Regions from separate parts of the Homo sapiens genome. Here regions 2, 3 and 4 are each linked to region 1. Evidence: fine-mapped expression QTL. A gene starts in region 1. Each other region holds a variant in brackets. All regions are shown on one strand. Distances are from middle to middle. Region 1 holds the start of NKD1 (NKD inhibitor of Wnt signaling pathway 1). Region 2 overlaps NKD1 (NKD inhibitor of Wnt signaling pathway 1). Region 3 has its middle 9.9 kb from the start of LINC02178. Region 4 overlaps BRD7 (bromodomain containing 7).

The links. PIP is the estimated chance that this variant, and not a neighbour inherited with it, causes the effect.
Region 2: its variant is fine-mapped to the expression of NKD1 in tibial nerve (GTEx, PIP 0.95).
Region 3: its variant is fine-mapped to the expression of NKD1 in cerebellar hemisphere (GTEx, PIP above 0.99). The same link has a PIP of 0.9 or more in cerebellum.
Region 4: its variant is fine-mapped to the expression of NKD1 in T cells (TOPMed, PIP 0.92).

What each region holds. Positions count from the first base shown.
Region 1 is chr16:50,544,410-50,552,849 of GRCh38, forward strand. It overlaps NKD1 (NKD inhibitor of Wnt signaling pathway 1), which reads left to right and starts at 3,987. Exons shown (of 10, transcript NM_033119.5): 1 at 3,987-4,169; 2 at 4,308-4,340; 3 at 5,013-5,146. The coding sequence starts at 4,145. RefSeq lists silencers at 3,630-4,079, 4,120-4,309.
Region 2 is chr16:50,592,483-50,600,922 of GRCh38, forward strand. The region is part of intron 3 of NKD1 (NKD inhibitor of Wnt signaling pathway 1); the gene reads left to right. Among named protein-coding and RNA genes, the nearest start is that of NKD1-AS1, 17 kb to the right of the region's middle. RefSeq lists an enhancer at 5,498-5,998. The variant T/C (reference allele first, on the strand shown) is at 4,421.
Region 3 is chr16:50,381,048-50,389,487 of GRCh38, forward strand. No RefSeq gene overlaps it. Among named protein-coding and RNA genes, the nearest start is that of LINC02178, 9.9 kb to the right of the region's middle. The variant C/A (reference allele first, on the strand shown) is at 4,246.
Region 4 is chr16:50,333,997-50,338,996 of GRCh38, forward strand. It overlaps BRD7 (bromodomain containing 7), which reads right to left. Exons shown (of 17, transcript NM_013263.5): 7 at 715-899. Among named protein-coding and RNA genes, the nearest start is that of BRD7, 32 kb to the right of the region's middle. RefSeq lists an enhancer at 1,610-1,689. The variant C/T (reference allele first, on the strand shown) is at 2,636.

The DNA of each region.
Region 1 (8,440 bases):
ACCCAAACTAGGCTTCCAGGCCCTTTAGCAATGCCAAAACTCACCAGGGAACTATAAAATAAAGCAACTCCAGGGATCCAGGAGGAACCAGTGGAGACTTGGGAACTGATTTTCTCCTTCATATATCCAAGATCGTATTATTGGCAGTACTCCCTCCTTATTGACCACAACATGCTCCTGGCTGAGGCTGGGCAGAGAGAGTTTGTCTCCTTCCACAGCAGGTGTGATGGCACCTGCTATAGGCAGTGCTGTGTTCGGCATTGCATTCAGAGATGCAAGTAAGGCAAGAACCCTGGCCTCAAGGAGCCCTGGCTCCAGGAGTGAAACTTAGCCTCATGCATAAAATAAGTGGAGATGGGAGGGGGCAGGGAAACCTTGGCTAATCAGAGCAGAGAAGAGCCCTTCAGGTTGGAAGGTCAAGGAGGGCTTCCTTTAGGAAATGGCATTTGAAGGGGCCAGATCAGATGGCTTAACTTCGGGGACAAGCTTTGGAGCAGCTAACTTGGGTGATGTAGGATTTTTTTTTTTTTTAAATCTCCCAGCTCTATGTCTGACAGATTTCACCTAAACCAGCCTTGTTAAATCTCAAGCCCCATGAAACCCGTTTCTGTTATAATCTCTCTCTCTTATCTCTTCCTTGCCTTCCTTTCCCATTCTCCTCCCCCAAAGGATAGGAAATCTTCAAAGAAAAAGATGTGTCACTGCAAGTATACAGCCCAAGAAATGGGCCAGATAAATTATTAAAACACACGAAAAGACAGTGAGTTATGGGGTGGGAAGCCCTCGGAGGCCGAATGGCCACCCCAGGTAGACAGCATGCTGGTGGCCCCTGGAGACCCCCTTCTCAGAGACCTGGACAGACTAACATTTTGCCACAAGGCCCATCTCTTGGGTTCTCACCCCAGATCCGGGTAAGGGTATCATGATTCCAATAGCAGTGAAGTCCCAGGCGCCTGCTGGGCTGGGAGGCACCAGGGTGAAGGTGGAGGGGGGCTTTGTGTCTGGGCTGGACATTTGGGATTTACTCCCCGCAAGACTCAAACTGCTAACTGCAGTTTTAGTTCTTGCTTTTATCTCTTTTTGAACTGTAAAAAGAAATTCCCAAGGGGAAGAGGGGATACTTTTTTCTCATGGAAGAAGAAAGCCAGGACCGGTTTAAGAAAGTAACCAACTTTCTAAGCACTGTGAGAAAGGATGCTCCAAGTTTTGCTTTGATTTAGAGGCACCCTGGTACCAGCAGGGAGGGGTGAGAAAGGCAAACAGGAATTCCAGACGAATTCCATTGCCTTTTGAGGGGTCTGAAAGAGGGTGCCCACTCCGACTCAGATGCTCAAACCCCTGCCTCCCTCCTACACCTGACCCCCGCCGTTCTGCCCCACTTTTTCATGTTCCTACAGCTCAGGGGTTCTTACTTCAGCATTACCCACATTTGATGCTGGATCATTTGTTCTGGTAGGGTGGGGGGGCTGCCTTATGCATTGTGGTATGTGTAGCAGCAACCCTGGCCTCTACCCACTAGATACCTCCAGGCATTACCAAGTGTCCCCTAGAGGGCAAAATTGTTTGCTGTCAGGTCCTTATGGGATGGAAAGAAAGAAAAATGGCCTGTTACCCCTGGTGTAACTTACTACACTGTTTACTAATTCATCATTTATTGTTTCTTGCCTATCTTCCCCCTAGGTGAGTGGGAGTTCGATGAGAGTGGCAGTTGTCTATTTTGTTCACCGATGTATCTTAGGTGACTAAAACAATGGTTGTCACATGGCTGGCCCTTCATATTTGTTTCCAGATGGAAGACTCTCTTTCTAGTGGTGGAACATTAGTTTTGCACTGTGTTGGGACAACCTGATGTAGTGAAAACAAGCCTGGGCAATGAAATCAACAGATTGGAGTTCAGTTCCTAATTGGGTCATGGATGAACTTTGTGACCTTGGGCAAGTGAGTTCACCTCTCTGAGTTGAATAGGTTCCCTCCTTTCTAGAACAAGTATGAGTCTGCATCAGAGAGTGGTTGCGAGGGCTACACATGATGGAGGATGAGGACTGGCACATCAGAAGTACTGAATGAAGAATTGTAACATAAAAATGACAACAGTAATATATTTTTGTGGTTTCAGCACTCTTCAAATGAAACCACCTGGCCAACAGGATTTTAGTGTACCTGCTTATAACATTAGCCTTCGTTTCCACCAAAAAGGGTGTTAAAAAAGGAAGCTTGGAACATGAAAGTAAGACACTTGGATGAAGAGATTTATGACTCTGGGGGGCTGTGAATTCCTAATGTCCTTTTGAGACATGTAGATCTTCCAGAGCGATGCTGCCCAATGCAGTAGCCACTAGCCAAGTGCAAATGGTCACTTGCAATATGGCTAGTCTTTGAGATGTGTTTTAAGTGTAAAATACACACTGAATTTTAAAGACTTAGCGCAATACAAAGAATGTAAAATATCTCATTATATCTTGAAATTATACTATTTTGGATATATGGTGTTCCCTTGGTGTCTTTGGGGACTGGTTCCAGGATCCTAGAGGATACCCAAATCCCCAGATGTCAAGTCCGCTATATAAAATGTCCTGTAGTATTTGCATATAACCTACACACATCCTTCTGAATACTTTAAATCATCTCTAGATTCCTTGTAATTCCTAATACAATGTAAATGTTATGTAAATAGTTGTTATACTATATTAAAAAGTTTTTTATTCTTTATTTTTGCTGTATTATTCTTTTTGCATATTTTCAGTCCACAGATGGTTGATGCCACAGATGTGGAACCTGTGAATAAGGAGGGCTGACTGTATTGAGTTAAGCGAAATATATTATTAATATTTCATCTATTTCTTTTTACTTCTAAAAGATGTGGCGACAAGAAAATTTAAAATTACAAATGTGGCCCACATTATATTTCTATTGGGCAGTGCTGCTCTAGAGAGTCGGCAAAAAGGGCAGAATGGAGCCTCCATTATACAGATCACAAAACTGAGCACAGGTAATTCACTCCAAAGGTCGGGGCTGGTCTCACTCTGAGCTGCGGGTTTTCTTTTCCCACGCCAGAGCTGCCTGGTGCCAGGACGAGCGTAACACGGACCCACAGTGTCCCCAGAAGGGGGCAGGCGTTCTGAGAGCCACAAAGGTGGGGTGGAATCCCTTGATGTCGACCGCCACCATCCCCCTCCCCCCGCGCGACCTCCCCGCAGAGACCTCCCCAGACAAAACAAACAAACCCTTGGGTCTGGCGAACTGCAGCGGGGAGCGGAAACCAAGGAAGATCAAAGACTCAGCGGTTACCCCCTTCCGGGCCGCGCAGTTTGGCAGCGCGCCCCGACCCGGGCGGGCACCCACGGGCCCCCGGACGAGGAGATCCCAGAGACTGGCTGATAACGGGGCGCTTTGGACATTTGTCGCTGCCTGGAGAGGGCTGGGCTCACACTGGCCCGGGGTGCGCTGGGGGCTCCTCCTGGACTCCCCAAATAAGAAACTAGAGGAGTGCGGTGGTGGGGGGCGGGTCACGGGGCGGGTAATGAACACTTTCTGCAGAAGGTAGGTCGTGGGAAGACTGGGAAAAGGCAGCGCTGCCGAAGCTTGCACCTGAGCAGCTAAGGTCTCCGCTCCCGACCTCAGTTTCCCCACCTGTAAATTGGAGCCGCCGAGTCCCGCCCTGCCCGTTTAGAGAGAACGTGGAGCGGAGGGAAGTGACAGTACAGTTAGCGATGGCCGGGCTGTTCTGTCCCAATACGCCTCCTGGACAAGCCGCCCCGCCGGGTCGCCAGCCCTGGAGCTCGGCCCCCGGCCCCAGACCGCGGCAGGGAGCGCGGACTGTGTCCCGCCCCTCCCGTCAGCGCCCCGCCCTCGTCCCCGCCCTGCCCCGCCTCCGGCCCCGCCCCCGCCGCAACCAGCCTTGCCTTTGATGCGCCGCACCGGCCAATGGGCGCGCGGGGAGGCGCGGGCCGCGGCGGCGGGCTGGGGGCTCGGCGCTCCCGGGCGTCAGTCGGGCCGCGGCGACGGCGGCAGGAGCGCGTCCCGGCGCCGCCTCGGGCTCCGCTCGGCTCGGGGGCTGCTTCGGGAGGAGGAGAGCCAAGGGAGGCGCCAGGCCCGCGGGCCGGGCGCATGGCTTAGGGACGCTCCCGGCCGCCGCAGCCCCAGCATGGGGAAACTTCACTCCAAGCCGGGTCAGTGCCCCCGCCCGCGCGCTCGCCCCGGGCCCCGCCGCCGTCGCCGCCGCGGTCGCTAACTCTCTCCCTTCCTTTCTTTCCTTCTCCCGCCGCCGCGGCTGCCGCCGCCGCCGCCGCCTCGCGATGTGCCTGCAGCCGCCGTGTGCAAGCGCAGGGAGAGCCCGGAAGGTAGGGGCGCGCGGGGCGCAGACCTCGGGGATGGACGCGGGGGACACCGCGGCCGCGGCAGAACGGCCCAGCCCGCCAGGTCTTATGACCAGGGCCACCCCGAAGCCCCAGTTCCGGCCACCGGCCCCCCAAGCCCGCTCCCTGAGCAGCCTTCGCGCCCCCTCCTCTGTCCCTCCTACCCGCTCCCCGCGGTCCTGCGCTCCCACCGCTGACCCTCAACCCCTCCCCCTCCCGCGTCCCTGCCCTCGGCTCTCACGGCACCCTCTCTTCAGACCCCCAAGCGCCTCCCCGCAAGACCCTGCCCCCTCTTCCTGCCCCCCGGCCCTTCTTCCGATATCCTGGCTCCTGCACCTACTGCGGCCCCTCTCCTGACCCCCAGCCCTCTCCTCCGCAGTCCTGGCTGCCAGTGCTCCCTGGTCTGATCCTAAACCCGTCCTCCTGGGGTACTGCTCACCCCTCTTGCCCCCTTCTGGCTCCTCGCTCCTAGGGCTTCGCTGAACCCCCCTTTACTTACCCGCGTCCCTCTCTTGGCTCCTGCCCCAGCCCGCGAACCCCCTCCTGGCCCCCGTGCCGTGGTCCTTCGCCTCCCACCGCGCCTCCTTCTTCCCTCCGCGGGGGTAACTTTTGGCACCTGGAGCCAGACTCAGGGGCTTCATGTCGTCCCCGTCCCAGGTGACAGCTTCGCCGTGAGCGCTGCCTGGGCTCGGAAGGGCATCGAGGAGTGGATCGGGAGACAGCGCTGCCCGGGCGGTGTCTCGGGACCCCGACAGCTGCGGTTGGCGGGCACCATAGGCCGAAGCACCCGGGTATGATTCCCCACCCCTGCCCCACCTCCTGGCCTCCTTTCAGCCTCAGAGATGGGTCCCCAAACCCATGCACCCCAACTTTGAGCACTTTCCTGCACAGCTTCTGGGTCTGAAAATCTCTTCTCAGCTGCCCCCTGCCCCACCAACGCGACCCTCTGCCCGCATGCCTTGGAGAACCTCGAAGTGCCCAGCTGGAGGCAGAGGGCTGCCTGGGGGAAAGGTCCTAGGTGGGGAGGTGGTGAAGGTCCAGTTGATGGGGAATCGTGTCTGTACCGGCGGGATTTGGGGGCCTGCTCTGACTTCTACCTTGTTTCTGCCACCAGCATTCAAAGGTGGAGGTGGAGTAGGGGCTAGAGAGAAGGGGGTATTAGGGGTGTCTGGGTGGAAGGCAGAGCTGTGCTGGCCCCAGGATCTGAATATGTTCTGATTGTCTGTGGCATTCATCAGTACCACCTGTACAGGAACCCCAGTAGAGCAGGCGGCCCTCTGGGTAGCAGATCTAGGGGGACTGAGACCTGGAAGACCCCTTACTTGGCATATGAGATAGAGGGCCTCATTCCACTGTAGCCTGGGCAGAGCCCTGAGCCTTCACCCCGTGTGTCTCTGAGGCTGGAGTTCCTGGAGGAGCACTAAGTGTGATGGGAATGAGTGAGTCCAGCCCCAGCTCCTGGCCTGGGACTTGGCGTTCACAGATGTCCTGTGAGCTCCGGAACTCTGCACGGGGCTTTCAGGCAGTCTGCGTGGAACTCGCGCAAGCCTAGGATCAAAGGATGAATCAACTTTTTGATGTGACATTTAATTTTTTTTTTTTTTTTTAACTTAGAGGGGGAATAGACTGAGTCTCAGGTCTGGTTAGTTCTTTGGTCTTATCCATGGGCTGGGGAGAGGCCAGTGGAGACTTCAGATGTGTTTGTATTTGGGTGGTGGGACCTGGCAGCTCGCTTGCAGTGCTGGTGTCGGGAGGTGGACCTGTGGATAAAGTCAGTTCCTGTGTGTGGATGAAATAACCTCTGGGCCTAGGAGAAGCTCCCCTGTCCTCCTCCACCGCCACTGCTTAGCTGGGGGCTTCTCTGTCTTCTGTTGGCCGGGTCGGACTTGGAGCTGCTGTCCCCTAGTAAAGGTCAAATCTTGGTGGGCGGGGGGCACTGCAGTTGGGGCCCTTTAAAAAGAGAACTACAAACCTCTCCTTCTTCCCCTGCCCTTTCTAGTTTTTGATCTACTTATTTATTTAAAGGCCAACGAAAACGGTCTAATTTAGCCGTATGAACAAATGCATTTACAGCTCCAGACAGAGGCCAACTGAGTGGATTTCCATTAATCAAGTTTTGGGTTTTTTCAGCCTGTTTATTTTTACAAAGTATTCCTGCAGAATGACATTTATTTGCAGTCCCTCCTTTTTCTTTTTCTTTTCTTTTTTTTCTAAACTGCCAGGCAGCTTGCTCCATGCTAGAGGGAAAACTTGAAATACAGCGAGGGCTTACTTCAATTGACTTTTATCTTCAAAGCCATAACAAATGTTACCCGCATGTTTTTGGTGGGTCTCCTTGGCATCCAGTCTGGGAGGATGGGAGGGAGGAGGAAAGAGGGAGAGGAAAACAAAAGTCTGTCGTTTTTAATTAAATAGTAGTGTTCCCAGCGAGAGGAATGCAGGCCACTAAAGTTGCCATTGGGGGAAGTGAGGGAGGGTGGGGAGGGGGCCCCAGCTTAAGTCTGTGGCTTTGGTGAAGTCACGGAATTCTGTTGCCTAGTTTCTTCCCCCAGCTGAGGACAGCATGGGATGGTGCCTGTCCCCCTCTCTCCCTCACCCCCTCTCTCAGAGAAATGCTGAGAGGTCATTAATGTTTGTTCAAAGTACTTTTGAAGATGTGAGGCTCAGAGCCGTTGGCATGACATGTGTCAGGTGGTTGGAGGGTGGGCCGCAGCCATCAAAGTTGTTATGCAGGGGGCCGGCCTCTGTCTCCTTGGGAGTTGTTCTTGCTGCTGGGGACCCAGACGCCTGGGTTTTCACCAACCTTGGCCCCAGATGGCCCAGCCAGTGTGTCTGCAGAGGTAGGGATAAGGAGTCAGAACTTCAGGGGGAGCCCAGGGTGTGGAACAGCACTCCAGGCATCCTCCAGGTGATTTCAGGTGGAATCTGGGGGAACATTTTAAATCTTAATAGTTATCTTTTTTTTTTTACCAGAAAAAAAAATAACTAGGACATCAAACCCATGATTTTGCAGATTTTATTGCTTAGGATGAAGCTAAGTTAAAAAAGAGTCTAACGTGAAGTCCATTCAGAGAAAAATATTAAGTACAAGTGGTCAAAATTGTGAATGTGGGAATGGAATGCCCCAAGTTTGGGAAGCACTAAGATATTGAACAGGACAGCAATGGGCAACCCTCAGGCTAGTTCATTTCCCTGATTCCCTCTGGTGCCGAAGGGGTAGCTGGTAGGTTCTTCCATGATATCATCAGGATGTAGGAGGGCATGGGCTCCAAAGTCTGCTGGTTTCCAAGGGCTGGCAGAGGTCCTCCCACCAACCCCAGGCCTGTTTTGGGGCTAGTCTCTGCCTCTAGTCCTTTACGTGGCCTGTCAACTAAGTGGCTGGAGACACAGTGGCTCATCCAACTAGTATTATTGTTATTGCAATGATAACTAGTATTTATTAAGTGCCTATATGTGTCAAGCACTTTGCTTACATTATCTTAATCCTCCCCATAACCTTGTAGTGTTGACAGCCCGCTGGTGTGGACTGTGTGTTTCTCCCTTTCTGGAGCACTTTCTAGGAGAAGCCATTTGTAGAGAAGCCCTGTGCCAGGGCATCCGCCTGGAGGGTGCTACATACAAAACTCCCAGAGAGGGGGTGCTTCGAGATGAGCCAGTCGTGGGGCAGGCAGAAGCAGGAGTGGCCCCTGTTTGCCCTCTTCCTTCCTGATGAGGTCTGAGGGGCTTGGGAAATGTCCCAGATGAGTCCAAGTTGCCTGCAGGGTCCTGAGATGTGAAAGGGTGACCATGCTGGCATTAAACTAAGCCTGCCCTCTTAAATACAGAAATAAATGAGGTCAGGCTCTGTCCTAGTGATTTGTCACCTGTGCAAACCATTTTGCCCTTGTATACCTTAATTAGCTCATCTGCAAAATGGGTGTAATAATATTTTCATCCCTGGCGGGTTATGATGGGATTATAACTGTTGAACCTGGGAAGGAAGGGAACCTACTGGGAGATTCACTGAAGACATTTGTAGGGTTGGAGATGGGGGCCTACAAACAGGGAGTGATAGGGCTGGGATAAGAATGCTAGAGGCTCTCTGC
Region 2 (8,440 bases), 48 kb after region 1:
TTTTTGTCTGCTATTTTATGTGTCGTTTTCCAGGCACCATGCCAGCTCTGTAAGGGCCTTCAGTAATGAGGGAGAAATGTACGGACCCTGTCCTCAACGAGTTTAGCCGGCTGGGGAGCCTGCAAGCCACAAGTAGTTGTCTCACAGAGCGCCAAAGGCTGCAAGGAGGATGCAGAGTGGGGCCCGCACAGAGCCCGGGGCTCCAGGGATGGCTTCTCTGAGACTGGAAGAATGAATTAGGAGGCAGCGAGAAGCAGCGAGTAGGGGAGCATCCTGCACAGAGGGTGGTGATGGGGAGGGGGAGGGGGCGGAATTGAAGGCATGGGCTGTGGGGGAGGGCTAGTGCAGAAGCGGGTGGAGACAGGCAGGGTCAGTTGTAGGGACGGCATCCCTGGTCCCTTTACCCAGGGCAGTTCCAGTCTCTCCCAACCTGGGTATGAACAGCACTCCCTTTGTCTCTCTAAAGTGTCCTGGTTAAGGCACTAGCATTATATGGGCAGTCCAGGTATAAGTACCTATGTTTATCTCACAAATAGGGAAACCAAGGCTCATGGAGAGTTTGTTGTGCAAGGACTTGGAACGAGGATGGAACCGAGTGGGGCCGGGAACTGTGCCTGCTTGACTGGAGAGCTCAGGCTCTCCCATCGCCCCACACCATCCTCCTTAGTGAAATTAAACATGTTCTCTGAGCATAGACTCTGCCCAGCCTCATGCCCAGGTGGCAAGGGTGAGGAGGAGCGAGTGAGCAGGACTCACTCACTGGCTTATGAGGAGAATAAGCTCACCCTGGCTTAAGCCAAAAGGGGAGATTTTGTGGTCCACGTCATTGAAAAATGTAGGGGAGGTACTAGCTTCAGGCACCATTTGATCCAGGGGCTCAAATGATGTCAGGACCCCTTTTGCATCCCCTCGTGGCTCTGTTTTCCTGGGTATTAGCTTTTTTCATAGCTAGAATTTCTCTGTGAGGTGGTAAAGTGCTCTCAGTAGGGTCAGGCTCTCAGCTCACATCTCACCAAAGTCAACAGAGAGAAAGAAGATGTCCTGGGGTTGCCTCTCCTTGGCATAGCTTGGGTTGTGTGCCCGGCCCTGACCAGTCCCCATGGCTGGCGTGGTGCGAAGCTCTTACTGGGCAGGCCTGGGTCATGTGCCCTCCCTGGTGGTTACGGGGAGAAATCAGCCTGCCCACACCATGTGGGTGAGAGGAATGGAGGGGCAGGGTTTCCAGATAAAATATAGGACACACAGTTAAATTTGAATTTCAGATAAATAGCACTTCATTTTTTTGTGTTTTAAGTCTATCCCAAATACTACATGGGACATACTTATGCTACACAGTGATCTGTTATCTGATATTCAAACTTAACTGAATGTCCTATGTTTTTATTTGTGAGGTCTAGAAAGCCGCCAGGGAAAATCAAAGTGTTCCCAGAAGAAGGAGGAAGGGGGCGCTGGAGACCAGGGGCTTCTGAATTTCAGATGCCCACTGCAGGAGCCAGATGAGGGACAAAGAGCTTCCTACAGCCTCGGCTTCCTCCCAAACTTACAGTCTGTGAAGCCAGCCTGAAACGCGCTGGCTGAATGAGAGAGGTTCCTGGGGCACAAGGTGCTTAGAACAAGCTTCTTGCACTTGAATTAGGCTCTGAAAGATGGGGAGGGGGTTTCCTGAAGTGGGGCTGGCATGGGGTGGGGTGGGGTGGGAAGAAAATGTCCATTTCCATTTTTCTGCCTCTCAGGCCTGAGCCCTGGCATCAGGGTCCCTGGCCTCTCACGTAGCTGGATTGGCCACAGTGTGACCATTGCCTTTCTGGGCTGGACTGATGTTCCACCTGCTTTGTCTGAGACCAACCAGCTTGCAATTCATTGGCCTGCCTACTCCCTGTGAATTCACCAAGTGGGTCAGGATTCCTCCAACTACCCGCGTAGTTCAGGGGAGAGCCCTGTGAGGTCAGGGACTGCAGAAACAGAGCCTGAGGTGAGGGTCACGTGCTAGTGATTCACTCAGGACACTGTCCCAGGGCAGGGCAGGCCAGTGAGGCAGTGGAGGAAGCAGGACAGACAAGAGGAAGAAGCCAAGCACAGGTGCCATTTCAGGCAAAGTCTTGGCTTCAGTCTGACCCTCTGGGGGAGCTCTGGGGTATAAATTATGCTTCTGAGTTTGTCGTGACAGGAGGTATGGGCTTTCATTCTCCTGCACCAGGCTCAGGGCCACCTGGGGTGGGGACACGGCAGTTCTCTGAGTCTGCAGACATAGCCCTAGGGCAGGCCTCTGAAGAGGGCCCCCAGGTGTGAGCTGCTGGTGGGGAGCACATAGGGAAGGGAGGGGGGCACACAGACCCGGGGGGATCTGCACGTGCACACGGTGCCCTGGGGAGGTGGACTGCTATCAAAGGGTCTAAAGAAGTAAGGAGACCCCTGATCTGTGAGCACCTCGTGGGAGGCCTGCTACAGGTGGTCTGGAAAGGCTTGAGAAGTCCACGCAGCATTCCCCAAACGTCCTGGGCCCCCATGCCTGGACCCACTACGTTTTCCTTTGAAATGTTTGGTTGCCTGAGACAGTGCTTGTGGAGAAACCGTCCAAAGGTGGGCTTGTTGGTCTGGGTGCTCCAGCCCTTGGCAGTCAGGGTGTGTGGGGGCTCTTGTCCTGTGCCTCTGCTCCCCGAGGGAACTCATCGCTCGCTGGTTCTTTGCTACCAGCTGTGGGTCCTCTATATTCGGATCCTGGCTCTGCTCCTCTTTGGCTTTGTGACCCTGGGTAAGTCCTGTCCCTTTTTGAGCCCTTAGTTTCCCCATCTGGACTCTCAGAGGTTCCTAAACTAAAATTCACAAAAGGACTTGTAGTGGGGAGGTTCATGAACCCCCTGAAATTCAATGTGCAATTTTCTTTGCATGGCATTTTTCTAGGGGGACATTCTCAGAGGGGCTGGGTCCTTCTTGCAGGTCAGAACCTCTGAACAAAGGCTCTGGCCTGGCCTGATGCTGGTGGTCCTGGTGGAAATGTGGGGCTCAGACAGCAGAGGCCTCTCTTCCAGATCCAGGAACACCCAGGGGCATGTCCTGAGAGCCCTGGCCTTCCTCTCGGGAGTGCTCCGTTTCTCCCAGCCTTACCACTCTCTTGCCTCCCCTATGACTCTAAGTCTCCCCATCTGTAAAAACAGCAATAGCTCACACGTGGACCTCCTGGGGTTGTTGGGTGAGGTACAAGTGTGATGGGTGAGGTACAGGTGTGATGGGTGGAGTCACTGCCATGAAGACCTTCTTATCCCCAGGCCCAAGAGTGGCCTCAAACCTTCCATGCTGACCATACGGACTCTCCCAGACCTCACTGGCTTCCCAGGTGACCACCCTGTGGTGACACGGGCCCCTGATGTGGGCTGTTGACTGGACCTGCAGGGGCAGGCAGTGGCCTTCTAGATCCCCATACTTTTTGCTTTGAGATCTTTGGTTGCCTGAGAATGGCAACAGCAAAATTTGGTGTGTGCTGGTTGGGATGGGCAGGAGAGAGTGCCACCCTGCTCCCCCTGAGCCCCCGATGACAGCCTGGCTTGCATGCTCAGCTGGTCTCATGCCATTTCTGGAATCAAAGCGCTGTCTGCATTACACAGCCCCTGGCTTCCTATGCATGTACAGTGAGAGCAGTGAGAAGCAGGCATGGGTGTGGCTGTGGCCTCTTTGTGGCCTGGGTGCACTGTGTGGCTGTGGAAGGGAGCAATGGGGTCTGGGTGGACCAAAGTCTGGAGTCTCCACCTTCCCTCCCAGCTGGAATCAGGAGGCCACCCATTTCACCAGAATGCTGTAGGTCTTGCCACTGCTAGGGCCAAGACCCTTTTAGCAGACTTCTGAGTGTGAGTCTTTCTAGAACCAACTTGGGTGCCCATTTTTGTATGTTTTAGCATTTTTTTTTTCCTTCAAAACACTTTGCTGTAATTTCTGATTGTAGAAGTAATCATGTGTGTTCATGGAAGACCATTGGGTGACCTGGAATCCAGCACCGGGCACCATTTCTGGGAGCATTTTGGTGCCCGTCTCTGCAGACGTGTGCCTCCTACTACAGCGCGTGGAAACACGTGCAGATAATGTTAGGAAATGTAATCACATTTTCTCTGCTGTTTGGCAACTACTTTTTTCTTTCAAGAAAATGCAGGGCGTGTTTTTCTGAGTCAGTAAATACAGAGCTGCATTTGGTGGTTCAACACACGCTGGTCGAGTGCCTCCGCCGTCAGGCGTTGATACATAATGTGTCAGATGGTGGGAATGCCCCAGAGATAAATAAGGGATTGTGGGAGAGGGGGCTGCAGTTTTAAATAAAGAGATTTGGGAAGACCTCACCTAGGTGACAAGGTGATAATGAACCCAAACCTGAAGGAGGGGCAGGAGGGAGGGGTTATCCAGAGGAAGAGTCTTCCGGGTAGAGGGAACAGCG[T/C]GTGTGAAGACCCTGAATGGGGAATGAGCTGAACCTGTTGGAGAAACAGCAAGGACGCCTGTGTGGCTGTGGGCGAGCGGGTGAATGGGGAGGAACAGAAGGGGTGAGGGAGGTGATAGGGCAGACAAATTGGGTGGGGCTTTGATGGGCTTTGGTGGGACTTTGGGGAATTGGGTAGGGGTTGGGGTGGCGACGAGGGCAGAGAATAGAAAATGGTTGTCATTATTCAAGAGGACTGTGGCCTGGAATGCGTGGCAGAAGTGGAGGAGGTGGCAATGATTGGTTTCAGGGTGTGTTTTGAGGGAGAGCCAACAGGATGTGCGGAAGCCTCTGGGGTGTCTGGCCAGAGTGAAGGAAGCAGGGAGCTGCCCTGTGTACACAGGGAAGGCACTGGGGAGGACAGGTTTGGGGGCCGCCAGGCGTCCGGTTTGGACACATGAAGTTTGAGGTGCCTGTTGAGCAACTTGGTGACATCAAACAGGAGGGAGAGCCACATCATTTGTTTTAATGGAAAAACCGCTTTGGAAAAAGTTATTATTATTTTTTTCAGTATAAAAGGGTTGAATGTTCTTGGTTTAAAAAGAGAGAATATAAATATAAAATTCAAATCACCCAGAAAATCAGACAGCTGAAGGAGACAGCGCCCCAGTTCCCATTTCTGAAGTGGAGCGTGGCCTTCCAGAAACATTCTGGAAAACGCACCTTTTTGTTTATCAACAGCACAGGAGCGGACTAGGCTGCTCCTCAGCAGCTTCCTATCTGACAGCACTGTGGACCCTGGGCCCTCATTCCCAAATGGCCCCTCTCACCTTCTCGGCTTTTCCACACCCACCTTTGGTGTGATCATCGTGCACTGCTGCGTGGCAGGCGGGTGGGATTGGTGCCCTCATTTTATAGATGTGGCCACTGAGGCTTTCGATCACAGCCCTGGCAGCATGCGAACTGCTGAGTTTCAGAATGAACCGAGTCCTCTGGAAGCCGCCAGTGTGACCCTCTTGATTATGTCCTCATCTGGTGGTTGGGGATGGTGGGAAGTCGAAATCCACAGTGGCTCCGGAGGAGGCAAAAGACTTCACTGGCAGTAGAGGGAGGAGGGCGCTCCGGGTGAAGGGGACAGGATGGTCCAGGGCTGGGAGGCTCCAAGTGGGCGGTCTGGCCTGTGAGAGGGATGGTGACAAGTTTCTTAGAGCTATTTTGGGGACAAGGGGACAGAAGGGGCCAGGAGATGAGAGTGGGAGGCCCAGGGCTGATGGGATCAGAGTGGGTAGGAGCATGGCTTCTGCAAGATGGTTTCTCCAGGGCACTGCAGGGCCGCATGGGTGGACTCTGTGTGTGTGTGTGTGTGTGTGTGTGTGTGTGTGCGCGCACACCTGTGCTCATGGACACTCTTGTCCTGTCCGTAAAATGAGGCCTCAGGGTATAGGAATCAAGAGGCTCTTACTTCATCTGTTTCGTTTAGGTTCAGAAAAGCAAGAAGCTCAAGCCCTTCATTCCTGAGGCTGAGCAAGAAATTCCAGGCTTCTTGGGTCCCCAAGCCCCTTCCCTGGGCAGGAGCACACATCCTTTCCCCACAGTGAGGTGGCCTATGGCTATGGGGCACCCTTCCTTGGGGCCAGATGACAGTGCTGCCTGTCATAAGCAGCCTGGCTCAGGGCCACCCTGTCGGCAGGTCACACGTGCTAGACCCTGGCAGCAGACCGGGGGCCTGTCCCAGGGCCAGGAACTGCTGGCAGATGCCGCCCCAGCTGCTTGGTGATCAGAGGCACGCCACAGGCCCTCGGGCCTCTCCTCTTATCAGCACTCGGCTGTGTGGCGTGGCGGGCCAGTGGCTGGGCTAGTCAGCAGTGTGGCAGGTGGTGGCATGGTGGGGCCAGTGGTGTGGTGGGCAGTGGTGTGGCAGGATCAGTGGTGCGATGTGCAGTGGCATGGTAGAGTCAGTGGTGCAATGTTCAGTGGTGTGGCGGGCAGTGGTGGGGCAGGATCAGTGGTGTGGTGGGGTCAGTGGTGTGGTGGGCAGTGGTGGGGCAGGATCAGTGGTGTGGTGGGGTCAGTGGTGTGGTGGGCAGTGGCTTAGAGAGGTCAGTGGTGGGTGGGAAGGCCGTGTGTGTGTGGTCAGCAGTGGGTGGGAGGGCAGAGACTCCGACAAGCGCTGAGTGCACTCTCTCTGCTCTCTGCAGCCGGCCAGAAGTGGGGTCGCCTGAGGCCTTCTGGGGTGATGAGGCAGTGCTGGGCTGGGCTTTGATCCGCTGTGGCATCCCTGACAAAAACCAGGGCAGAAGAGAGCATGTGAGGGAAGAGAATGAAAGACCAGGGCCCGGAGGGAGAAGGAGGTGACAGCTGTGACTTGGGACACGCTATTTGAGCCAGGCCACTCACCAAGCACTGTACACATACTCTCCATTCCTCTCACAACTGCCCTGCCAGGTGGGGGCTGTCATTTCCACTTTCAGCTGGGGAAACTGAGGCATAGTCAGGTAGACTCATTTGTACAAAGTCACACAGTATAAAAGCAGAAGAACCAAGGCTCAAACCCAGACCTGACTGACAACTCGAGTGAGTCACTTAACCTCTCTAAGCCTCAGTTTCCTCATGGCCAAAGTGGGGGTCATCGCAGAGCCCAGCTTCTAGGGCTGCTGGGAGCACTTGGTCGGTGATGCCCCTAACGTGCTTCATGGAACACTTGGCAGATGTCGCACACTGACTAAGACTGGTTATCATCATCACTGAGTCCTTTATATTCATGACCTCAGTTACCCCCAGGCCCCAACATGCCCATCAGATCCCAGTTTCCACTGTAGAAATGCCTTTGAACACTGTCTAGTCGGAAAATTGTGGTCAGACAAACAGCAAAGTCTCCCCACCCCGTGCCCTGCCTGGCTCTGGGCAATTGGCCCTACATTGGTTCATCTCTTAAGGGCTCTGAAATGCCAGCAGTTTGAGATCAGGGAGCATTCTGGGTGATGTCAAGATTTACTCTTTTCTGTTGTTGGTGTTGGTGTTTTGGGTTTTTTTTCCCCCATTAGTCATTTTTTCTCCATGCTCAGAAATCACACTGAAGCCATGAGTCTTCAAGGAGGGTGGCCAGGTGGGAAGGTTGGTGGCATCTCCTGGTGCCCACCTTGTCTGGTGTCTCTCCCCCACCCACCGTCTTCCTACTTATTGGAACCAGCCTGACCACTGTGGGGGCCAGGGGGTAGGTTCTTTAAATCCTGTCTTTCCGAAAGCATGGTTCAATGGTTGATGTCCTATTGAGGGGTTGGAGGGGCAAGTGGTGGGTGTCTTATATTTTAATGATTCTGAATTTGTTCAATATGAATTGTCCTTAAAAAAACAAAACAAAACAAACAAACAAACAAACAACAAAAAACACCTAACCTGGACAACATAGCGAGACTGTGTCTCTACAAAAAGTTTTAAAAAATTAGCTGGGTACGGTGGCCTGTGTCGGTGGGAGTCGCAGATACTCAGGAGAGTCACTTGAGCCCAGGAGTTGGAGGCTGCAGTGAGCTGTGATCATGCGACTGCACTCCATCCTGGGGGACAGAGTGAGACCCCCATCTAAGAACCAAACCAAACCAAACCAAGGCCCCCAACACCTGTGATTTTATTGATCTTATTGCTTTATGGCAAGACTAGGTTAAAAAGAGAGAGAGAGCCAATTTAAAGAGAAGCATTTAAGTACTCATGGTAGCCCAGAGACATGGCTCTGGAGGAAGGCGCGACCATGGCATGTGGATGCCTGCGACTTGCTGGTGTGACAGCCCAGGAAGTGGCCTTTGCTGGCCCTTTGGTGACTGAGGCTGGCTGAGGTTCAGGATTGGGCAACCCGTCTCTAGGGATTATGAGTACCCTGTCGGGTCTCAGGCCTGAGGGCTGGAGGAAGGGAGTATGGTGGTTTCAGAGTCAGGCCCAGGGTCTGAAGTCCTTCCTGCCAGCCCTGCCGTCCCACTCCTTGCTGGCTGTCCACCTTCCCTGTGCAAACTCTCAAGCCCAGGAAGCAGGCTCAGGCTGGGGTCCCCA
Region 3 (8,440 bases), 160 kb before region 1:
CATTTTTGTTGCCCAAATGATTAGACGGTTGAAGTCCTCTCTTGTGGAAGGCAGGACTTCCTTCTGTGTTCTTCCTTCTGGCAGTGACTTATTTCTCCTCCCAGGAGGGGATTGGAGAGAGGAGGTTTTGTCATGCTTCCCTCTGTCCCCCTCAAGGCACTCAACATGGTATTTGGCCCACCATGGGAGCCCAGTGGAGGATGATGAATGAATTCACATTAAATATGTTCTTCCTCTTCCCCCCAACTGCACAGCCAGCTACTCCTGGGAGAGGCATAAATAGTGACCTACAGGCCGGCTGCAGTGGCCCACACCTGTAATCCCAGCACTTTGGGAGGCCTAGGTTGGTGGATTACTGGAGGCCGGGAGTTGGAGATCAGCCTGGCCAACACGGGGAAACTCTGTCTCTACTAAAAATACAAAAATTAGCCAGGCATGGTGGCACATGCCTGTAATCCCAGCTTCTTGGGACGCTGAGGCACAAGAATTGCTTGAACCCTGGAGGTGGGGGTCTCAGTGAGCCAAGATTGTGCCACTGTGCTCCAGTCTGGGCAACAGAGCAAGACCGCCTCAAACAAAAATAAGTGACCTACACCATGAGACTTTGGAGTTGTCAAGCCTTTGCAAAATCTCAAACTCTCTCTTCTACTGATGTGAGTACTGTAGTGCCTGAGAGTCCATTACAACAGAGCAAGGGCAAGGTCTAAGAATCATCTTCCAAGGTCAGCACACCTGGAAGGGGTATTGCCTGAACTGAGCCTGGTAATTTCCTCCTGGGATGGGGAGGGTGGGGAGGGTGGAGAACACAGTGACAGCGCCCCCTGCCCCAGGCTTTCACTTCACCAGATATCCATTAAGCACAGTGATTGTTAGGGTCCACAGGGACTTCAGATACAAACAAGACACAGCCCCTAACCTCAGGAGGCTCAGGGTTTGGTGGAATAGACGCGTGACTTGCCCCCTTTCTGCCGTATGACACTTTGGGCTCGTTACTTGAAAGCCTTGGCTTCCTCATCTGTAAAATGGGGTTATAAATGTACCAATCTCATTGGTGATAATTCATTGAGTTGATGCATAAAAATGCTTAGGACAGGGCCAGGCTCAATAAGGGTGAGTAGTCAGTGTTATTATCTGCCATGCCTCAGGCAAGGTACAGAGTTTCCCCAAGGCTACTTGACCTCTTCCTGTTTACCCTGCCTCCTGGCCAGCTGCCCTCTGGTGGTAACTGTGCAGAGTGGTCGCCTGCCTCTGGCACCTGTCTGATCTGCCCCGGTCCTGCTGACCCCTCCTGTGGGCCTTTTGGTTGTCTGGACTCTTGGTATGTCCCAGGCCTTCCCTTTTTGCTAGGTTTCCAAGGCTGCTCTTCTGCGTCAGCAGGTTTCTCAGGCTTTTCAGACCCAAGTGACCATCTTGGGACATAGGCAGAGAGAAGCCTTGATGTTACTAGTTATTTCTGCCCATTGGGCACCAAATAAACACTTTCTCTAGCAACAGCCTCTTGACTTCCACTTAGAGAGCCTCCTCTCCCCACATGACCTAAGCCTGCCAATGAGAGTGTCACAGCCGCGAGGGCCAGTGAGGATTGGTTCAGGGGTGAGCATGTGACCCAGGCCTGCCAGTGAGAGTATCACAGCTGCCAGGACCAATGATTGGTTCAGAGGTGGGCCTGTGACTGGAATCTGGTTAATGAGAATATCATAGCCCCTGGCTTGGTGATTGGTACAGAGGTGGGCAGGGACTGAGGCTTGGCTTTGGTGGGACCTTTCCATGAAAAGCTTGCTGAGCCAGTGGTATGTCAGTCTGGTGCTTTTGGGGCTTGAGAGGAGGCCCTGCCTGAGAATAAAGCTAATGGTGGAGAAAGCAGAGCCAAGAGCTAGTGGCCTGGTGACAGTAATTGAGTCTCTGGATCCAGCTGAGCCTGAAGTTCATCAACCTCTTACACTTTTCAATCCAAGGGTTGAATAAATTCCCCCTCTGAGTTTTGTGTACTTTGAACTGGATTTCTAGCCCTTGCAACTGAAAGAACATAGGCTGACTTGTGTGTGCATGGACACACACACACACACACACACACACACACACACACACACACACTTCATTCAGTGCCTACTGAGGAGTCCCTCTGCTTAGGGAACTGAGCACTGCCTGTTCCCAGAGCATACAGAGGTGACCAGGACAGTTCCTGACCTCAGGAGTCCCAGGAATGGGGCAACAAGTCCGACTTCTTGCTCAGATACTTTTAAGTGTGGCGGGCCCATTCTCACCAGGGCCAGCTACGTCATTTGTAGGGCTGAGTGCAAAATGAACACGTGGGGTCCTTTGTTCAAAATTATTAAGAATTTCAAGGTAGGAACTCAGAGCATTAATCCAAGTGTGAACCCCTATGTTCATGAGGGAACATATACATGAGGAAACTATCACACAAACCATTATCAAATAGGTCTAATTTAAGGTATTCTGGGGGACAAAGGCTTGGCTCCTTCAAAATAGAATCCTTGGTAGGGACCCAGGTTTGAGTAGTGCTCACCATGGCAGTAGCCTTGAGGGGAGCTGGGAATGATTGGGTGACCATACGATCTGCCTGTGGTCACCAAGGAAGGCTGTTTTGCCTGGAAGGGAAGAAAGCTCCTGGGAACAGAAATCTCAAGACCAGGCATATGGGTGGGTGGGAGCAGAGGGAGGTGGAGTTGGTTGGGATCCTTGTTTTGAAGTGGGAGGCAAACAAAGATGGGCGAGGTCCATGTTTGGTAAAAAGATGGACCAGGAGTCACAAAAGTGTCAGGGAGACCTGGTGGTCTCCTGGTTCTGCAACCAGGCAGACCTGGGGTTGAGTTCCACTTTGGCTGTTTAGTAGCTTAGCGACCTTGGGAAAGTCACTTGACCTCTCTGAGTGCAGTTTCACGGAATGGAAAATAGCAGTGATATTACCCCCAGCAGGTTTGTAGTGAGTACCTAATGGGATAGTGTCTATAAAAAAATCCTTTATAGGCTGGGCAGGAAATCGAGACCATCCTGGCTAACATGGTGAAACCCCGTCTCTACTAAAAATACAAAAAATTAGCTGGGCATGTTGGCATGCACCTGTAGTCCCAGCTACTCGGGAGGCTGAGGCAGAGAATTGCTTGAACCTGGGAGGCAAAGGTTGCAGTGAGTCGAGATCGCGCCACTGCACTCCAGCCTGGGCGACAGAGTGAGACTCCATCTCAAGAAAGAAAAAAAAAATCCTTTATAAGCTATGAAATATGACCAAAATCCATCAGTTCTAAAACTCATCTTTTTTACATTTCATATCTCTAAAATCGGGATAAATCTTATTATCCAAGGTGTGACATATTTAATTGGCAACTTTTCTTTTTCCTTGGTGGCTCATGAAATAATTTGTGTGTGTCACGATCAGTGGCATCTCATTAACAGATCTGCTGAAATGATCGTTGAAACAGCAGTCGTTGGCTTTTCCATCTCCACTGCCACCCTTGCCTGTGTTTCCAGAGAACAGAAATTAGACCTTTTCATCTGTGTCCTCTCGGAGCCTGACATAATGTCTGGCACAGGTCAGTGCTCAATTAATGCTTTAAACCAAAGTTTAAAGTGACTAGCTAAAGGGTTTTGCTGGAAGGGCTTTTGACAAGCTAAACCCAACCCTCTCACCTTCTGATTAATTGCAACTTGGGGCTGAGGCGTGGTCATTTGTGTGTCTTGTTTTCCTGGCCACCCAACTGATGCCTCTTTGTCTTATTTCTGAGAGTTGCTATGGTTCATGCTCTTCGTTTCTATAAGGTACACAGGGAACACACTTACCCCCTCATTCTTCCTGCCCCCTCCACCACTCTTAAGACTGACTCAATTAGCGTGTCACATCCCTCTGGCCTCAGTGATTGGTCCAGGGATGAACATATGACCCAATCAGAACCTTTGAGATACTATGAGATTTTTTTTTGCAGGATGTAGCAGCCCCTGACTGGGCCCCATGCATAGCCTCTTGGTATTTGCCGTTTCCATGCACACGGGCTGAACTTCCAATTGCCCGTCTTTGGGTCTATGCTTGAGTACTCTCTCAGGCTGCTGGGGCCCACTCTGTCCATGTGTGCTGCAGGGGCTAGAAGTCAGGGGGCTAATGGAGCCAAGGAGTTGCCAAGGTAGCCAGGGGAGGCAAGTGAGGTGCGTAGGGTGCAAAATTTGAGGAGTCCTAGTCCCAGCTTTGTGGCAGCCCTCAACCAATGGCTGATGGGAGCTGGTGGATAAATA[C/A]CCCATTTCTCTGCGAGGTGCATGTTCTACCCTGGCCCTCACAGTTCCCCAGTGGGATTAGGCTCCGGGTGCCCACAGAGATAACTGCATGGTAACATATCTTGTATTGGCTTCCTTCTCCGTGCTGGCTCTCTTCCCCATTCCCTTACCAGTACTTCCTGTGATCACTTCCCAAGGAAACCATTTGTCCTAAAATCGTTGACTAAGGGTCTCCTTCTGAGGGAGCCCAAACCAAGACACTGGAGCCCCTGCTATTGTCTGTGGTTGAGGGCTGACGCCACTGTAGAGGCCAGCAGCTGTCTTGCCAGCTGGAGGGGCAAAGGATGGAGCCAACATGGGGGAGAGCAGAACCGGGAGATGGCAGGTGATATGATTTGACGATGCTCTGCTGCAAGGATCATGCACCACAGTTCAGAAACTTTCTAGACTTCCCCTTGAGCACTCTCTGTGCACCTATGTTTTTTCTCCTACAGCCAGCCATCTTTTCTCTTCTCTCCACTTTCTCCAAAAATGCTATTTTCCGGAACTATTCACTGCTTTCTCTCTCTCAGCTTCTGAGCCCCACTCCACTAAATTGGTCTCCTGGGATTTACCATTCAGGAAATTGTTTGCATGTGGGTAGGGACTTGTAAGGAAAAAAGTAAAAAGGGGTGTCAGTATGTTGGTATGATGGGATGTGGGGTGGGGAGTGTGGTATGTGCATATTTGTGTTTGTACTTCTTGGCACAAACCATAGGTTCATGATCATTGGTACAGCCTTATCTACTGGGAACTCACATGGGAACCCAAAAGAAATGACCGAAGGCCTTCTCCCTTCTGTCACCTCTTTCCACCTCTCAGGAACCTCGTATCTCTCTCATTTCTGCTGTTCTTACATCTCTGTTCTTTCTCTTCCTCTCTGCCTCCTTCCTCTGCTTCAACATGGCCCAAGGTGATCACCCGTAGGCAGAAACCAACTCCAGCTCAAGTTCTCCACAGAGAATCTGATAGGCTCTGCTCAACTGCCAATAAATGAGCTTTCTTGGGCCAGGCCCTATCCTTTGTCCAATCAGCTTTGGACTTGGTGTTGAGGGTGGGGCCCTGGGCAGGATGGCCAGTGAAATATCCTGGATGGCTCCTCCCATCACAGATGCCTGCTCCCAGAGCTGCAGGACAGTGTCTGGGAGGCGGGATGATGACAACGATGACTGAACACTTACTTTAAACCAGGTGTGGATCACACATTGCAGATGTTACGTGTACAGATCTTAAGTGTATAGCTCAATACTTGTATTACTTTTAATTCCCATAGCAAACCCACCATATGGACGAGATTATTATTACCCCCAATGTACGGACATGGAAACTGAGGTATGGCCACTGAAAGCATAACCAGCACTGTATTCTACCCCTGTCACCAAGTCACCTCCAGGGATAGGCATAACCCACTGTGTTCCCAGGCAGCGACAGGGAGACAAACCAGGTGATGTTAACTTCCCCAGTGCATAGGGTGCCAGGTGGAAGCCTGCCAGCCTGGCTCTCCCCTTTTGGCCATCCTTATTCTCCCCCTGGCCCCCTCCTCCTGGCCGCTTGGTACCTTCCTCTCTTTTCCCGGGCAACCCAGCCGCAGATGGAGGCAGACCCTGGGAGTCACCAAGCGGCTTTATGATGTGCAGATGGTGTTTCCGCGGAGCCCCTCGCTTTTCATGTCGGTGGCCTCTGGGAGCTGGGCCAGCCCAGATGTCCCTGATCGTGAGAAAGCCTCCCCTGGCAAGGCTGGTGCAGGATGCCAGTGACGGGGCCTCTGGCCAGTTCTGGTGTGGGTTGTCTGGTGAGGAGCTTGACTGGATGCTCGTGAGGCGGATGCCTCTGTCATTTATGTCCAGCTCTGCGAGTTCAAACGGTGCATCTGTAGAGCCAGGAATATCCCTTCTGAGTCCACAGACAAATGGATAGAGACTTTGCACAGCCAGCTTTTCAAAAGGACCCTACATTGATCTCTTTTTTCCCCCATACATGTTGTTTTATCTGACTCTCAAGCTATCTATGTGCACAGACTGCCTCTCCCATCAGAGGAGGTCCCCTCCTGTGATGGGAACAATCTCACCCCCATCAGTGATAAACTGGGCCAGGATCAGGAGGCATGTGTCTCCTCCATTAGACTAAGAGTTTGCAGTATTAGGGAAAATGGAACTCTGCTCTTTCCTCTCCAAATGGGACTTCCCCAAATCAGGAAAATGTGACCCTGCCATCAGATTGGGAGTTTTCAAGGTTGAGATCGATGAGTCTGTCTCTTTCATCAGGCTGAAAACCCTCCAGGTATGAGATGGGGGTCTCTTCCGTCTGATCAGGAGCTCCCTGAGAGTGGGGATGATGGCTGCTTTTCATCTCTCTCCTCCCAGAGTGCTCAGACAAGGCTCAGAGGATGTCGAGAGCTGAAAAGAGTCCTGCTGACCATCCTAGGGGCGGGCAAATTTCAGCCTGGACTCGGAAGACCTGCCCTTGCCCAAAGCACCTGAGGAGAGTGGGATCAGTGTCAGCCACAGCAGGTTCCAGAGAGACACAGGTGAGGAAGACTGTTGTGAGATGTATGGACCCTGGACAGAGTTTGTTTTGTGACCTGCTACATAACCCAACTTCTGGCTCTGGGCTTGGTTCCCAACAAGAGTTCAGTGATGACGAGTGAATAAATGAATGAACGAAGACCTGGTTCCTGTCCTTGAGAAACTCAACTCTTCTAAGGAAGAAATGAAGCCCACTTCTCTTGGGTGCCTCTATGTGTTGGACATAATTTTAGGTTCTCTCACGTACATCACAGAATCTTCAAAACCAGCCTAGAGGAGGTTGAAGTGAGCTGAAATTGTGCCATTGCACTCAGCCTGGGTGACAAGAGCAAGACTGTTAAAAACAAACAAAAACCAGCCTAGAGAATAAATTTTATTTTTTCAACTTTATAGATAAAGAAACTGGGGCTTAGAGAGGCAAAGTGACCTGTCCAAAGTCTCATAGCTATTGAATAAGGGAACTGACATTTGAACTGAGGTCCTTCCACTTCCAGTGTGCGCTCTTCCTGGAAACATTATTATCATTTGATTTCAGAGCTACGCAAGACAGATATGGATGAAGTGGCACATGAGCTGGGAGTGGTATGTGAGAAGGAAGCTCAGAAAGGCTTCACAGGAGTAACATTGGAGATGTGTTTTGAAGGATCAGTAGGAGTTCACCAGACTGAGAAGATGTGGAGGCATGGTTAGAAAAGGAGGGGCAAATTGTCTACCTGGAAGGTTCCCTGTAGGGGTTGGTGGGCAGGCTGCCCCCTCCCACATGTGCTCTGTGGCACTGCCTCTCTGTGGAGCTGGACTTCCTCTCCCTTTTTGGGAGGACAACAGATGGAAGCCTCATCTTATGCTGGCACAGCCTCATCTCATGCTGGCACATTGCTGCCAAGAGGCCAGGAAATCTCTGTTGTGGGCCTCCTACCCTGGTGGCAGAGCCAACTGTGCTTCTGGAAGGAAAGAAAGGTGGGTTGGGATCAGCTGTGATGAGAAGTTTCCCCTTTGAGTCCTCTGAAGAAGATAGCATAGAGGAGGAGCCGAGACCCTGGTCTTGGATCTGGCCAGAGAAAGATGGGGTTGGGCAAGTTGTCTCCAAGGGCTGTGACCAGAGGCCCTCTCTCTCTGGCTTAGAAAGCAGCTGGAGACTTATTATATCCCCTGGGGGTGTGAACGTCCTTTAGAAATCTTTTCTGGGCCTGGTGTTTGAGGACAGGCAGGTATTATATTTTTCTGGGGTGGGAGGGCAGAACAGATTTTCCACAGATTCTTGGTTTTTGATCGATGGTTAGACTTTGTGAATTCATTATTTTGCTGAAACTGAGTAGAATGAAGTCCAGCTCTTATTGAGCTCATCAGGGTCCGATTAGAATCACAGGTTCAAGGAGGTCAGAAGGAACGAGCAGAGGCCCTCAAGGCCTGTGGCTTTTAAATTGTATGTGTGTTTTAATAAGCAGATACTTAAAAAAAGCCTGGAGATCTTATTCTGAAGCTCAGTGTGTGTAGCAGATACAAGCAGAGCAGCTGTTTGCAGTGAAGTGGGGAACTTAAAGACCACCTACTCAGGCCAGGGGCAGGGCTCACACCTGTAATCCCAACAATTTGGAAGGCTAAGGTGGGAGAGTCCCTTGAGCCCAGGAGTTCAAGATCAGCCTGGGCAACAG
Region 4 (5,000 bases), 210 kb before region 1:
ATATACCATTGTTCTTTTAAAGTTTGATTTTTAAAATTTAAAACAAGCACTTAAGTGTGTAAATCTTAGAACAAAGAAAAACTTGTCACTAGTTTACTTTCTTTGCATTATGACAGCAAAAATCCCAAACTGCTAACTACAACCCTCCCCAAAGTTGGCAGTGAGGTGCTGGGCGGTCAGGGCTGGCTCCCAGTAGTGTGAACGGGCAGATGCGGCTGCCGTCAGCTGCACAGGTGGCTGCCTAGGTGGAACAGTGGTTCAGCGTTGCTCCCACCAGCTGACATTGGGTGGAAAACATGGGCACGCTGCAGTGACAGCCCATCTGCTTAAGACGCAGCAGTGCCTGTGCTCCCACTGAACTCCTTGCTCCTTTATGGAAGGAGGTAATGACTATGCATTTTTTCTTAAACAAACAGTTCTATTTAAATAAACTCACTGACCATATCAGTCCCAAAAGACACTTTATAGGTTTTAAAACTACTTCAATAAGAATACACATTAGAACTGCTTTCTGAACTGTGTTTGGACAATCCCATATAGTGCTTCATATGAGAAGAGGGGTATCACACCATCAAAATGGACTTTCATGCCAAAACACCACCACCACCGACACACTAGCACTTGGTCTTCCCAAGTCAGGCCCCGAATAAGTATTTTTCCCCCTTACTAGCTTGAAGAAGACAGTTTGACCTTAACATCCCAAAGATCTTTTACTTTTTATTTTCTTTGCTGGGACTCTTGAAGGCGTGTGCTTCGGCATCTCCAGAGTCCTCTCTCTCTCTCTGCCAGCAGCCTCCGTCCTCCCCACTCTGTGAGGTGTCTGTTCCATCTTTCTGCTTTCGAGTTTTCTGCAAGTCAGCCATGAAGTCTATGCTCTGCTTCAGGCTCTGAATTCTTTCCTAAACATATTCGAAAATATTCTTATTATATGTTTGTCATTAACTTTTAAAGTAATGCATTTTTTTCCCCACAGGAGTTTATACTTATCCTGTCATTAACCAGGGAAGAAAAACAATTAAATGTAATCATATACCAAGAGAGTATTGTATTTGGAAACCATGATAATGCCTACACCTTCAATTCTTAAAATTTAATTTCCAACTTCATAGAAAGCTTTACAACTTTATTGCCCTATCAGAAATTTAACAGAGGAGAAAGTATGAATTAAGACTAAGTATTCTTTGAAGTACTGAATTGGAAGACTAAAATTTAGTTTAATGGTGTGTTAACATTTTGTGTTTAACAGACAGGCTTATCTTTTGACAGTTAAGAACTGTTAGGTGTATCAAAGCCTAGGGCATGTGAGCGTGTGAAGTCCCTCTCTGTTCTGGTAGCCCAGTGTGCTCACGGATGACGCTGGCATTTCACTCTGTGTGAAAACAACAAGCCTTGAGGAGAAGACAGTTGGTGGCACAGTTCCTTCCTCAGAGTGCAGAATGGTTTCGCTAACCAAAGAAGTCTTGTTTCTATTCTGTGAAACATGTGCTTAATTTTTCGCTGCAATGATGTGCTGTGAAATTTTCATTGTAGTTAAGGGCTTGAGGTTTCTCCGTAAATTTTAAGAAGGCATATTTGTTTCTACTGACTACCTTGCCTGTACTCTGAAAGTTATCACTGGGTAAAATAGAGTGCAACCTCCTTAGGGCTGCACAGCAACAGCAGGGAAGACTTCTGTGGAGTAACATAAACTAAGAACTAGAAAGAACCAGAGGCCATTCAAACAAGAACAACGCAGCCCAGGAACAACAAATGACTCACCTAAGGTCACTAAACCAGCAACTAAGACTAGGCTTGCTGTCACTCATGTTGGGCCTTTCCTCATCACACCATGCTCTATTAGTAGTGCAGATGGTGACATCCTCACCAACACAGTTCTTGCTGTTTTTTACTGGACTTTTAAAGTAATCTTAAAACCATTAAAGCGATCTATTTTATTGTGGACAAATAAAAATATGGGTAGAGGAGAAAATAAAAATCCTCCTAATGTCTCATCCAGAGAAGAACAGTGTTAACAAGTTTATTATTCCAGTACTTTTCCAACCATTACATAACCCAGCAAATTGGAATTATACTGAATATTTAGTAAAAAGCATTTTTTCAGTTAATAAATTATAAGCATTTCCTCTCCATATCAATAGATATTTAAAATATTTTAATAACTATTTAATCCCACGTCTACACCATGATTTAATTAATGGCCTATGATTGAACATTTAGATTTCCATGTTTCCACTATTATAAATAAAAGTACCATCAACATCATTATAAATAAATCTCTCTAGGAACCAGTATCTCTTTAGGATAAACTCTTAGAAAGGAAACAAAGTCAAAGGGAATGAATATTTTTGAGACTTTTGATAATTACTGCTTTCCAGAAAAGGTATACCAATTTACATACTAATTTACATTAGTGTTTGAAAGTTTCTCTGAATCCTTGACAAAATCAATAGTATCACTTAAAAAGCTAACCCATTAGAATCGCTTGAACCCGGGAGGCAGAGGTTGCAGTGAGCCGAGATTGCGCCACTGCACTCCAGCCTGGGTGACAGAGTGAGACTCCGTCTCAAAAAAACAAAACAAAAAACAAAAAACACAAACAACAACAAAAAGCAATCTTATTTGATTTTTAAAAACA[C/T]GTTTTATTTTGCTACATTAAAAATATTAGTGAGTTTAATTATTTCTGTAAGTTCTCAGTAATAATTTTATTTCCACTCTAGAATTTTATAAAGCAGAACTTACATTAAGAATGCTTTGGGGTTTTAAAAAACACGACATGCACAAAATAAATTCAATTAGAGAAAGTTTCTAAACCTTGAAACAAGTCCCAGGAAAGAGTGAAGTTTAATTTTCCTTTGAAAGCAATGTCTTTTTCTTTTTTTGGTAATTAAAATGCCTCCAAGTCAGCACATTATTGATCTTCAATTTTACAATATTAAATGGCTAACAGGGCTGGTTCTTTGCTAATAATATAGCTAACATTTACTTAGTGCTTACCCATGTGCCAGACACAACTCCATGAGGTAAGTACTACTATTATCCCCACTTTACAGGACAGGAAAAAGGCTGACAAAGGTTACCTGGGCTAAAGTCACACAGCTTCCAAAGGGTAGAGCTAGGACTTGAACCTTGATTGGTCTGATTTCAAAGCCACTATGCTACAAATAGTATTGTTTGTACTACTTTGTTTGTACTACAATGCAGCATTTTACTCAAGTATTTATTTAGGAGATAAAAAGTTACTCTTCATCTGTTCATTCTTCTTTTTTTTTTTTTTTTTTTTTGAGACGGAGTTTCCCTCTTGTTGCCCAGGCTGGAGTGCAGTGGCGTGATCTTGGCTCACCACAACCTCCACCTCCCAGGTTCAAGCGATTCTCCTGCCTCAGCCTCCTGAGTAGCTGGAATTACAGGCATGCACCACCACGCCCAACTAATTTTGTATTTTTAGTAGAGACGGAGTTTTTCCATGTTGGTCATGCTGGTCTCAAACTCCTGACCTCAGATGATCCGCCCACCTCAGCCTCCCAAAGTGTTGGGATTACAGGCATGAGCCACTGTTCCTGGCCTCATCTGTTCATTCTTTATAAAAATAACACGTCTACTAATAGTTGTTATTTGAGTGTAACTGAAAAAATGATGAGTGACTACTCTACAATTTTTTCAATGAACATTCAAAAACAGTTATCTTTGAAAAGACACCATTCACGGAAGGGTGTGCTGGGCTCTCTTGGAGCACAAACTATTAGAAGAGTTAACTCAAAAGGTCTAAATTTAAACGTTTAAAAATCACTGTTGTGACGACCCCTCCCCTGTAGGGTGGAGAGAACAGTCAATAGGAAGCTAATAACACAGGATGGGTGGGGCTCCTCAACAGCAAAAGATCTGAAAAAAAGGAAGACAACAGAGAGAAAGAAAGAGGGAGAGAGGGAAGGGAAAGTGAAGAAAATTTTATTTTCTGTGCTTTCAACCATTCCACACGCCAGTAAAATTCAAGAGATAATGGAATCTTTTGCTTGTTGTATTAACTACATTACTTAAGGAAGTGGTAAATCAAAGGTCATTAAAAATTAGGCTCCCACCACCCAATTCAATGTACATATTTTGGAGTGACTAAAGGCTGCATTTGACAAATGCATTTTTACTTCAAATACATTAACAAGAAGCATTTCCATGTCTTTAAACCTGGAATATGGCATGGTTCTAGATTCTGAGAGTCTTCCTGCAAAGAATGGGTAAACATTTCATATTCCTCTTTCCTCTGCGAATGTTGTCAAAGATGGGTAACTGGCTTCCATTAGTTTCCCAAGTCTTTAGGAAAGGGTGGGAACCAAAGTTGTCTAAATATTAGGAGCGCAAGAATAATCAACAATCCAAACATGTTTTTCTTTCTCTAGTTAAGTGAATCCAAGAATCTCTCAGCCAAGCATACAGACACTCAGACATCTGCACACCAAGGCATTTCTTTAAATGTAAAACTGTAATACAGAAAAATGAATCACCATAAAAATCGAAAAACCACATGCAGATGCACGACTCATTTTTATCATCCTTTAACTCCCCTGAATGTGAGCTCAAGCTCTGGACTCTGATTCCTTTCTCCTTCTACCAGTGTCTTATACCCACTCATTTCTTCTTTGCAAAATCCCTGTCCTATCTTGTGGTTCTTTTTCATAGTATCCTCTCTACTCTACCTCTTATCTAGAATCAGAACAGTAATGCTAGAAATCATCTTGGAGACCACAGACTAAACCCTTCTTTAGGGATGAGAACACTGAGTCCCAGGGTAGTTAATGTCTTGCCCAAAGTCCACAAGTTAGTGGAAGAGAGCTAAAATGAAAACTCTCTTCTGCCTGCCTGCCATGGTATGGTATGGTGCCAGGATCACCCTTGATTCGTTCCCTAAAGTAGTCTCTTACATAGGTTTCTCCCACTCAGAGTGGTGAGAAAAACCTCAAAAGATATGGCTTATCTTGCGAGTTATTTTCTCCAGCGGATGCACAGTG